Regions from separate parts of the Homo sapiens genome. Here all the other regions are reported to be linked to region 1. Evidence: microRNA targets listed by miRTarBase, many of them from high-throughput screens and not tested one by one. Region 1 holds a microRNA gene; each other region holds the end of a gene's coding sequence.
The links. The annotated mature microRNA hsa-miR-30a-5p reads UGUAAACAUCCUCGACUGGAAG and lies in region 1 at 2,824-2,845, opposite strand. An mRNA with a match to its seed (bases 2 to 7 or 8) in the 3' UTR can be bound and repressed. Matches are read on the target gene's strand: a 7mer-m8 pairs with bases 2 to 8, a 7mer-A1 pairs with bases 2 to 7 and ends in A, and an 8mer does both.

Region 2: the mRNA of SLC12A2 is a reported target of hsa-miR-30a-5p. The part of its 3' UTR that is shown has no 7-base or 8-base seed match.
Region 3: the mRNA of ZFPL1 is a reported target of hsa-miR-30a-5p. The part of its 3' UTR that is shown has no 7-base or 8-base seed match.

What each region holds. Positions count from the first base shown.
Region 1 is chr6:71,400,772-71,404,838 of GRCh38, forward strand. It overlaps MIR30A (microRNA 30a), which reads right to left and starts at 2,850; the gene lies at 2,780-2,850. RefSeq lists an enhancer at 1,318-1,846.
Region 2 is chr5:128,186,223-128,190,289 of GRCh38, reverse strand. It overlaps SLC12A2 (solute carrier family 12 member 2), which reads right to left. Exons shown (of 27, transcript NM_001046.3): 27 at 613-3,794. The coding sequence ends at 3,659. Among named protein-coding and RNA genes, the nearest start is that of SLC12A2, 100 kb to the right of the region's middle.
Region 3 is chr11:65,087,445-65,091,511 of GRCh38, reverse strand. ZFPL1 (zinc finger protein like 1) reads right to left here. Exons shown (of 8, transcript NM_006782.4): 8 at 3,114-3,584. The coding sequence ends at 3,398. CATSPERH (catsper channel auxiliary subunit eta) reads left to right here and starts at 2,402. Exons shown (of 3, transcript NM_001282448.2): 1 at 2,402-2,654; 2 at 2,762-2,861; 3 at 2,981-3,136. The coding sequence starts at 2,481. The coding sequence ends at 3,057. RefSeq lists a silencer at 1,444-1,616.

The DNA of each region.
Region 1 (4,067 bases):
GAGGAATCTAAATAGAAAGGGGTTTCTCAGGTCTAGGTAACTAATTCCCATGCAGACGGCCTTCAAATGCATTTCCCTTGCCTCCACAGTCCTCTGGTCTGGTTTTAGTTATTCTGTAGTAGAGGAAAGGCTTCATACATGTGTAATATTTATAGACAACATCATTGTAAAATGGAGTGCAAGTTCAAATCAGAGTTTTAAGGTCAGGAAAAATAAGTATCACTTAAATCATTCACCACTGACACTTTCAGAAGCTCTTAACTTCCTTTAGAAATCTCCCTTTCAAGCATGTGCCAATTTTTATTTTGGCAAATCATGAATAAAAACTAAATGTATAATACTTTTGATGATTACTCAGTGTGGTGCTATTTTTTAAACATTACTAACTTTATAGCAACACTCACATTACATTTAACTAACACATTTTGACAGTGTTTTATTTTCAGTAACTGACTTACTACAGTCCATTTTAAGAATTTTATGTTTTAGTTTATAGATATTTTATTATGCTGATATGTGAAATTTTAAAAATTATAGTAAGAAAAAAAACACATGAAAGCAATTAGTAAGGGTTTCTAATTTATGTTAAATATTAGTTTATCTTACCTAAGCACATGCATGGTAACTCTGTCCACGTAGTGGTAGAAACATAATACTGTAAACTTTAGAAGTTATTTTTTTTGTAAAATAAAAAATTGCATCCAGATCTTATTTCAATTATGAATAACACACTGTTGATGTTATTTTATTTATTTATATGTATATCTATATATATATATAGATATATTTTTTTTGAGATGGTAGGCTCGCTCTGTCGCCCAGGCTGGAGTTCAGTGGCACCATTTTGGCTCACCACAACCTCTCCCTCTCAGGTTCAAGCAATTCTCAGCCACCTCAGTAGCTGGGATTACAGGCACGTGCCACCACACCCAGCTAATTTTTGTATTTTTAATGGAGACAGGGTTTCACCATGTTGTTCAGATTGATCTCAAACTCCTGACCTCAAGTGATCCACCTGCCTCAGCCTCCTAAAGTGCTGGGATTACAGGCGTAAGCCACCGTGCCTGGACTGTTGATGTTACTTTAAAATAGTAGTTTACATTATTACTGTGGAAATGTGGGGCACAAGACATAAGAAATACTAGGTATTAATTTTGAAACTACCCGGAATGGCTTATGGAGGTTTGTATTTGTTGATTTAAAAATAATTAAAAATGCTGTAATTTTTACAAATTAAAAAGTTCCCATAACTAATTATTTACATGAACAAAATGAACAGATAAAAATGAAAAATGGAAAATTTAGGGGCAGTAAGGTAAGGAAGAGGATATAAAATAACATAGGAAGAGAACCTAAAGAAAGTGAAGGTCAAAGATTTAGGAAAAGTTTAACCATTTCTTCAAACCTATAGTCATTTACCTAGGAAATACGGTCGGGTGACCCCAGAAAAACAGCCGAGTTATTTGCTCCAGGGGTTTTCAGCTTACCAATTAAAATAGACCACATTCTCAGTTCCAGACCCAGGGCCTGGCAGAGGCCTCTCCAAGCCCCTTGCATTTCAGTGGCAGTTGATGAACCTCTCATGGCCCAGCATGACTAATAGAGTTTTGATAGCTTTATGTATGAGGGAAACTTAAAGACATTTCTAACACATATTTCTCTCCATCCCAGGTATTAGAAGAAATGCTACTATTTTAAATAGTGGTATGATCATACTGTTTTAGTATCACTTCTTTATCATCATCATCAATGGGTATTAAACAGGGAAAAGAAACTCTTTTACATTAATGGAAACACTATATATTTATAAAATACTGTGTTTTAGAGGACAAAAGATATCACTTTCATATCTTTTTAAAGTGTCTAGTTTCTATATAAGTGTATCCTTAATATTTCTATTATACACTTAAATATTTCTCTTATACACTTAAATATTTCTATTTAAGTGTATAATATTAAAAATATCCGCCATAAGAAAAATACGCATTTACAAAAAAGGAAAATTAGAAATTATGTCCATCACAGAAATCTTCTACAGGATTCTGAATCTTAAAATTGTCTTCATATATTTAGGATAGAATTTGATGTATTTATTATTTTTAAGAGATATGAGTTATTGCATAAAGCTAAGTTAAAAGTTCAACCAAATGGAAACAGTATCCACAAATTCCTAAAATACTATTCTAATCATCTGAAACAAGAATAGGTTTTTCAAATAATAGAGTTAGTTGAATCAGTATTTGTTTGTTTTAGACACTTTATTAAGCTGAGAGCTGCTACTTTATTACTTAAACACTAAGCCTATAAGGAAATAAAAGGGGTTTAATCCAAGTAATGTGAAAATAACTAACCCTTCATCTTACTTTTTTCCCCCAAATAATTGTGGTTTCATTAATGGATTTTTTTTTTGTGAATGGGTCTAAAAAACACCTATTTTGAAACTGCAGAAAGGGCAGGACAAAACAAATCACTTCATAGATTTTTCTGGGAAATATTGCCCTACTACGCTTTTAAAAAAAATAAAAATACTGTAACACATTTCCTCATTTCTCTTACGAATACTTTCTTTTTGATATTGCAAATTCTATGCATACACAGAGCACCTCCTCAATGCCCTGCTGAAGCCCTCTAAAAATGTACAGACATGGTTTTAAAGTGATTTAATTTATACCATTTTAATTCAGCTTTGTAAAAATGTATCAAAGAGATAGCAAGGTATTCAGTTTTAGTAAACAAGATAATTGCTCCTAAAGTAGCCCCTTGAAGTCCGAGGCAGTAGGCAGCTGCAAACATCCGACTGAAAGCCCATCTGTGGCTTCACAGCTTCCAGTCGAGGATGTTTACAGTCGCTCACTGTCAACAGCAATATACCTTCTTTAGCCTTCTGTTGGGTTAACCTGAAGAAGTAATCCCAGCAAGTGTTTCCAAGATGTGCAGGCAACGATTCTGTAAAGTACTGAAGCCTCATTCAAACAGCAATATTCTAGAAAATGTCTCAAATTCAAAACAAATAAGAAGGCTCATGGATGTCTATTATTCATCACCGAGCTTCTAGTTTCTATAAAATTTTGTGATATACTAAAACAACATATATAAATGGTTTCATTCATTATTGTTAGCCACAAGAAGTAAATAGGCAAGTGGCCAGGTTACTTAATATGATTTCAACATGCATTATGTAATTACAATCCTTTAAGCAAAAGTGACCAAACACAGAAACTAAATTATCTTAACAGCGTAAAGCGTACATTTAACATCAAATACTGCAGTTGAGTGAACTTAGACTACCGTGAAAATATAAAAGGTCTACTTGGAAAGTTATAAACTCTGACAAAAAAAAAAAAGACTTACATGCTGCTTTTATAGATCACTTTTGCTCTAAAGTCTGCTCCCAGAGAGGACTTGTACAGTCAGCTGATTTTTGAAAGAGTAAGCAACAATCAGGAGAAAAACAGAAAAGAATAACGAGGTATAACACAGGCATATATCAGTATGTGGATCAAAGTTTCCCACTGGAAAAACACAGAACCTATCACTCACAACAGTGACGCACATTAACTCCAAATTTGAATGTTTTGAATTCCACTCCCATTCTCTTATGAAAATAAATGAGGAAAACTGAAGGTTAAGCTCTATCAGTCACTACTTTCCTGAAGTAATTCAAAACCATTCTGAATCTAGTGAAAGATTAAGTTGATACAGAAAAGTGGGTGTGCCTTTCCCTGAGATTTGTTTTTAGATGAAGTTACCGTAAGGTTCTTAAATTGTGTAAGTCTTAGTAGTTTGTGATCTCAAACCCGAAACAAAAATAAAATCCACACAAAAAGCATCATGTTTACTGAAACTAACAAATATGAAGAACTCCATAAATTACTTTCTCAAAGCAAAGGGTAACTCTATCCCATTAAGGTTAAAAAAGTTAATCTTTGAGTCAGCAGGTGAAAACAAGCTGAATTATGTTGTGGCCTTTTTCTTTATTAACTAAGGACTTTGAACTATTAAAACTTCCTAGGGAACCAGTTTTCTCAATGGGTCAAGTCACACAGGGGAACAAAGCAAACTTTATC
Region 2 (4,067 bases), not on the chromosome of region 1:
TCTATCCCAGCCATCTATCTTATGGATCAGCCAGCAGTGAATGCATAATAAAGAAATTCCTGGGGATAAAAGACCTGGGCTCTAGACCAATATCCTTCCTTGATTTACCCCATGACCTTGGAAAACTCCCTAAACTGCTCCAAGCTGCTTTCTCAAGAGTAAAAGAAATAGCTGTCCTGCATATATACACACCTACAGTCATATTCAAATGAGAAAATGAAAATGCTTTCTAAAACTCTAAATGAGCTTAGACAAAAATCTTTGGAAGGAAAGAATCAGATTATATTCAGGGACTATGAATCGCTTTTAATCTTCCAGTTTCCTCATTCACAAATGAGAGATCTGGCCCAAAGATAAAGCAGAATTAGAAAAGCTAGGTCACTTAAAAAAATACCATAATGAGCTGCATCTCAGATGGTTCAGTCATACTGTGAGCATCAACAGTGATTATTGCAAAGGTTTAAGAATAGTGAACGACTTTTCCAGGGCGTGAATATTAAGGTAAAAGCTATTTTAAAAATTCAGAAATGAATGAAGCAATAGTTATCGAAATGAGATAAAACCACAAAGCTGGCAAAGACTTATTAAACAGATATAAGAATGGACATTAAATAGGTTTAATGAATCCACTTCCTTTATTGCAGTAACCTCTGTACAAAGCAGCAACTGCAATACTCAAGGTTAAAACATTAGAAAAGCATTTGTGTGACAGGTATATTACAGTATTATCAAAATATTACATTTTCAGACTTACTTAGCAGATAATCATCCACCAGAGCTTAAATCTTTAAATTATTTCCATAGTCTTAAAAAATATGTAATGTCAGAATGCATATAAAAAGAATGTAAAAGGAAACCTAAAATACAAATGGAATAATGTAACAAATAAATATTTGATTTCAGTAACTGTTAATAATCAGCTCAACACCACCATTCTCTCTAAACTCAATTTAATTCTTATAGGAATAATGAACTGTCAAATGCCATGGCATAATTATTTATTTCCAAGCTATCATCAATGATTAGAACTAAAAAAAATTTGGCATAAAAAAATCACAATTCAGCATAAATAAAGCTATTTTTAGCTTCAACACTAGCTAGCATCTCTAAGAATTGTTGAAATAAGTACTATAACCTTGAAAATTTTCGACCTGGTGTCTAGTGTTAAGTGAAAGTAATGCATTTTTTTTAAGTGAAAAGCTTCTTACATTATTTCACAGACAGTATTACCCACCCCACATTATGAATAGTTAGATATATTTTATGTACTTTATACCCACATGTATGACGCATGACATTTGGTTCCTGTAGTACAGATCACAATGTTGTTTTCCTGAATGGGAAAAACTTAAAAAAAAAAAAAAAAAAGGTAAGTGTACCTGTGCACATTTCAAGATAGCAGCACTCAGTCCATGCCCTATTATCCATCTTAAAAGTTCACACATTATTGTTTACTGAATAATATTTCTACTGTCTTTACCCCCAAACATTGCAAAACCTGCAATGGAACAATGCTGTGAGTTATAATGTAGAAATTTTTTTTTTTTTTTTTTTTAGAAAATCAGTTACTTCATTTTCTTAATATTCTGAATTCAAGTTATCAGATCTCTATACCTAGGTCATACTCATGAAGCAAAAATGCTGCACACCACTGAAAATAATAACGTTATAGATGTCTATCAAGATTCATGAAAACCAGCCAGGCGCAGTGGCTCGCACCTGTAATCCCAGCACTCTGGGAGGCTGAGGCGGGTGGATCACAAGGTCAAGAGATAGACACCATCCTAGCCAACACGGTGAAACCCTGTCTCTACTCAAAATACAAAAATTAGCTGGGCATGGTGGCGTGCACCCGTAGTCCCAGCTACTAGGGAGGCTGAGGCAGGAGAATCGCTTGAACTGGGGAGGTGGAGGTCGCAGTGAGCCAAGATCACGTTACTGCATTCCAGCGTGGCAACAGAGCAAGACTCCGTCTCAAAAAAAAAAAAAAAAAAAAAAAAGGATTCGTGAAAACCTGCATAAATTTTCCACCACAGAAACTTGTATCAATTAACCCACTTAACAGTATTTTAGGCGAAGTATTCTCCATTTTTGAACTGGAAAATTGTGTGAAATTACAGCATGCCCTTCAAATGATCACCTTTGTTCTCTATGAAACCTGTATCTGTTAATCTGATTTTGAACATATGTTTACTTAAACCAAAGTTTGCCTAATGAATCTTGATCACTTTAAAATGCAAAATACCAGCAACATAAATTTCATTATATATACACATATGCATCTGTGTATGCATATTACATATATATACACACACACACACAAATATGTAGACATAAATCCCTTGAAATGTTTTCAGGAAATCCTTCCTTGAATTATAAATGAAAAACTTCACATTAATAATTTCATATAAAGCTTTTAGTAACAGTACATATGCACTGTCAAAATTTTACTAGACTATGATGTCAAAACAGACATTTCAAAAGCACAAACTGGCAGTTTTTCTTAACAAAAGTTTTAAAATATTAAGAATGGATTAAATTTTAATATTCAGAATAATCTGTTCAAACCTGAGTGTATTAAGACTAAGTGTACTTGACAATTGAATGAATTAAGCCTAAAAACATTTCTCTAAGAAACCAGTGGTCCATTTAACCATTTGATGAAACATTATTTTAATGACTTATAAAGGATAGTACAGTATACTGAAATTCCACTTAAATACTGAAATATTCTACTAAATGACATTGTTTTGTCTAAATTTCCTCCAGAAAAATCTGTTAGCATTTCTTAAAAGTCCCTCAGATTTGAGGGAAATTCTAAATTAGGACAGTTTTCTCTCCAAATAAATATAAATGATCTTGAGTATTTTTGTTTAAAGAATGACGTGATTTTTAAGCATGGTATATAGAAGTATGGGATGAATCTTCAATCTTCCCTAAGGTTTCAATAAATAATAATAAATATAGTAATAATAGCCAATCAGAGGGGTTAAAAAGGTATTTGGGGGGGCTTTTTTTCCTAGCTCTATATTCACATATACTCATATAAACCTTACCATGGGGTTACTTTTTGGTTACCATTTCCCCTTCCCCATTTTTGATTAACCTGCCCTAATTCTCACCTTTAATATCTAACAGATACCTTTATAGAATTAACAAAACACATACAGTACTCAACACTAAATGGTCAATGGAAGAAGACAAGCAGTGTTCATTTTGTTTTAAAGTGGAAGAGACTAGAAATAAAAACAGTTGAAGGCAAAGTTTGACATTCTATAAGTTTATAAAAGAGGATATATGGATGAAATTTGGTTAATTTCAGAAGGCACCTCAAGGCTAAAGGCTTTTTGTACTTCTTTCATCAATCAAAAAGTTAACACGCTTTTATTGCTATTCAAGTAGCAAAGGAAAACTACTCTCACAAACTTCAGTTCAACAGAGAAGAATCACCATTAAGATTGAGATATGGAATTGACTAAAACCGAAGTCTCCATACACGTTATCAATGGAGCAACTTTCCTGTGTGCTTTCAAATTAATGAAATCGTGAAAGAAAAGTCACCATTCGCCATTGTGATGTTAATGTGTCATTGAAGATTTCAGTTACTACACTAGGCACTGAAGTACCATTCTGGAGGGCTGTCCACTGTATAGAACATTTATGAATAGAAGGTAAGGACACTCTGATGATTCCCACGAACTAGGAGGATTGGTGGTAGGTCCTTAGATAGAGCTTCTAACCATGCCATGTAGAGAGCACTAGACACAGCACCTTTTCGTGCAACTGGGAGACTCCTGGTATCAAAAAGAGAAAAAGAAAAAAAAAAAACCCTGAGCAATGCATTTACAGAATAAAATGTAGCAAAAATTATAAAGTAGATTACAATAACAGTTACTGTAAATTACTATAATTACAGAATATTTCTGAGTGCAGGAGAATTCTGCAAATAGAATAACAACCACAGTTGTGTTGCTTAGCGATGGAGACGCATTTCTCAGAACTTACTGTCAGGCAATTTTGCCCTCGTGAAAACATCACAGGAGTACTTACACAAACCTAGATGGTAT
Region 3 (4,067 bases), not on the chromosome of region 1:
CTCCCAACCTCGTGATCCGCCCGCCTCAGCCTCCCAAAGTGCTGGGATTACAAGCGTGAGCCACTGCGCCCAGCTTAATTTTATATTTTTAGTAGAGACAGGGTTTCTCCATGTTGTTCAGACTGGTCTCAAACTCCCGTCCTCAGGTCATTTGCCTGCCTCAGCCTCCCAAAGTGCTGGGATTACAGGTGTGAGCCACCGCACCCAGCCCATATTCATATATTACATGTATATAATTTTTAAAAATTAGGAGCTAGGGGTAGGCACAGTGGCTCACACCTCTAATCCCAGTACTTTGGGAGGCCAAAGAGAGTGGATCACCTGAGGTCAGGAGTTCAAGAGCAGCCTGGCCAACATAGTGAAATACCATGTCTACTGAAAATACAAAAATTAGCTGGGTATGGTGGCAGGCGCCTGTAATCCTGGCTACTTGGGAGACTGAGGCATGAGAATCACTTGAACCCGGGAGGCGGAGGTTGCAGTGGGCCGAGATCATGCCACTGCACTCCAGTCTGCGCGATAGAGTGAGACTCTGTCTCAAAAATAAAATAAAATTAGGAGCTAGGAACTTTAATGTATAAAAGTTCATTTGTATTCAAATGAGGACTGAGGTCCAAACAATTGTTTCAACAGTGGGACCACAGCTGGGCCTTGGGGCATTACCCCTTTCATGTGGTTAGGATGGGGCTCTGAAGAACTATTGTGCTTGTCTGGAGACTGGGCAGCAAGCACAGATGGTGGGTGCAGGCTCTAATCCCACTGCTGGGAGGCAGCCTGTGGGTCTTGGGCTGACCTGGGACCTAACTTTTGGGGCAAACAGTTGGGCAGGAGGCAGTGGGGTGGCTGAGTTCGAAATCAAGTCCTCTCCTCCTCCCTCCTCTTCTCCTGCTTCAATCCCTGGGAGCTTTCATGTCACTCCACACCATTTCTGGCTGTTTTATTGGCATATTTTGTTGACGGCCCTGGAGTTCTCACCTTTTTCTTTTCTTTTCTTTTTTTCTCTGTCACCCAGCTTGGAGTACAGTGGCATGATCATAGTTCACTGCAGCCTGGGACTCCTGGGGTCCAGCAATCCTCCCATCTCAGCCTCCTGAGTAGCTGGGACTAAAGGCACACACCACCACACTCAGCAAATTTTTTTTTTTTTTTTTTTAGAGATGGGGTCTTGCTGGCCAGGAGCGGTGGCTCACACCTGTAATCCCAGCACTTTGGGAGGCCAAGGCAGGCGGATCACCTGAGGTTGGGAGTTCAAGACCAGCCTGACCAACATGGAGAAACCCTGTCTCTACTAAAAATACAAAATTAGCTGTGCGTGGTGGCACATGCCTGTAATCCTACTTGGGAGGCTGAGGTAGGAGAATCGCTTGAATCCAGGAGGCGGAGGTTGCGGTGAGCCGAGATCGCGCCATCGCACTCCAGCCTGGGCAACAAGAGTGAAACTACATCTCAAAAAAGAGAGAGATGGGGTCTTGCTGTCTCCCAAGCTGGTCTTGAACTCCTGGCCCAAGACAGTCCTCCCACCTGGGCCTCTGAAAGTGCTGGGGTTGCAGGTGTGAGCTACCGCACCCAGCCTAGTTCTCATCTCTCACATGCATGGAGGAGATTTCTTCCTCCTGGCTTGCATGTGACCCTGCTCACTCAGCACAGCCTCAGGTAGTATCGGATCTTCGTTTCAGTATTGACTCTCTCCCTCACTGGCTATAACAGCTTGAGGAAGACCATCCTCCCTCTGCCTCAGACTCAAGTGTCAAATAGGACTTATGCCACCAGCCCCAGCTGTCTCATGGGACTCTTAGACTGACAGAGGTGAAAATGCTCCAAGCACCTGAAGGTGGCGGAGCAGAAAGCTGACCAGCATCAGGTCCTGTAAGAACATCTTGGGAGAGAATGGAAAAGCCAGGTGCCTTCTGGGCCACACCTGGGAAGGGCACGGGGAAGGTCCCGGGACAGCTCTGAAGAATCTGTTGATCCTTCCCTTCTCGTAATTCCTCTCCACCAGAGGGTAGAGCAAATACAGGCCTCCCCTCACCTGGGAATGCCTTCCAGCTATGCAGCTGGGTCCTCATCTCTCATCTGCCTAAGACTTGCTGTAAATCTAGACCACGCCCCTCAACTTTTCTGAGCCCCAGTTCTTCATCTGTAGACTGTGTTCACACTGCCTCCGTTTTGGGAAACTTGAGACATGCATAAAAGCGTCTAGAGTGAGTATGGGATAACTAGGGCTGCTGCCCCTTCGCCATTGCCATGGGCCCCCACTGATCTCACAATTCAAAGCACCCCTACCACCCGTGAGGCACTCCTGTGTTGGCTGGAATCAGCCTGTGTTCTAGAATCTTGTCCCCTCCACTGTCCTCCTGGTTCTAGAATCCCACTGCTATTCCATACCAGGCACTTTAGAACCAGAGACTCTGCTGCTTTTCCTGGGCAGGGCCTGCTTGCTCCAGCTCTCAAGTCTGACTTGCATCTACACTGCGGGCAAGATGTGGCTGCAAGACCGCATCGCCACGTTCTTCTTCCCAAAAGGCATGATGCTCACCACGGCTGCGCTGATGCTCTTCTTCTTACACCTGGGCATCTTCATCAGAGACGTGCACAACTTCTGCATCACCTACCACTATGACCACATGAGCTTTCACTACACGGTCGTCCTGATGGTAGGCTCAGGGCAGGGACGCAAGGGCTGGCTGTGGGAGACCCGAGGGGCTGATGGAAACCCCACTGTTGTGCGAGGGGGCCACTCTCCCACTGGATGGGCCTACAGTTCTCCCAGGTGATCAGCATCTGCTGGGCTGCCATGGGGTCACTCTATGCTGAGATGACAGAAAACAAGTACGTCTGCTTCTCCGCCCTGACCATCCTGAGTGAGTGGCAGGAGTGGGAGGGTGCAAGAGGGAGCGGGGAGCTTTGGAACCCTGAGATGTGGCAAGGAGTAGCCAGGGAAGGGTACTGGGGCTCATGGGGGGCTCTGTCCCCCGCCCAGTGCTCAACGGAGCCATGTTCTTCAACCGCCTGTCCTTGGAGTTTCTGGCCATCGAGTACCGGGAGGAGCACCACTGAGGCCTGGGGAGTCGGAACAGGGCTAAGGAGGGGGAAGCAAAAGGCTGCCTCGGGTGTTTTAATAAAGTTGTTGTTTATTTCCACCTGCCAGCTCCTTCATGGGGCGAGGGGTCGGAGGCTGGAGACCCGGGAGGAAAGCAAGTCAAGACAAATGCTTGACCCACGGGGACTCCAGGCCTGGCCTGCAGCCACTCTGGTGGACTTGGCTTTGGGTCTGGGGTCTTAGTGTCTTAGGCTTGAGGGAGAGGGGCAGTGAAGAGGTGCCCTCAGCCTCCCCATTACCCCGCCTCTCCTCCACAGAACCCACATCCTAGGCTGGCCTAGCCACAAGCAAGGGGGCTCAGGAGGGGCCCACGCGGATGTGAGGGTTCATGAGTGGGTCCAGGTTGGGATCGCTGTCAGCTGCGGCCCGGCCTAGGCGAGACATGAGGGCAAGGAGGGCCAGGAAGCCCAGCAGTCCCAAGAGTAGCAGCAGCCCCGCCCGCTGGAGCAGGGTCAGCGGCCGCTTCCGAGACCCAGCCCGGCTCCTGGGGGGATGAGGGGAAAATCAGGTCAGGCCCCAGTCCCTGGTGGCCCCCGCGGCTGGAGAGAAGCCCTGGTCACCACCCATTCCTGAGCCTCCATCTCCTCGTCTGTGCCTCAGGGATGATCACTCCTGCACCTGCCACCATAGGGCGTTATTGTGCAGCTCAAACCAGCTGAGGCGCACGACTGTATTCTGGAAACCACAGTGTGTCAGACGTCGGGGAGAATTACAAAGATTAGGGGGTGTCAGATCGGGAAGGGGCCTCAAAGAGCCTGAGTTCAAACCTCCTGTGTAGGAGGCATAGAGACAGTCCCAGAGAGAAGCAAAACACAGCTTCTGCTGCACAGCCAAGGCCTCTCTGCACAGCCCCAGCACCAGGTACTGTTACTCCCCAGAACAAGCCCCTTTTGTCATGAAACCATCCCTTCCAGGACCTCTGGCTCCCATTCCCTCTCCACCCCTTCCTGGCATTCCGCCCTGCCTG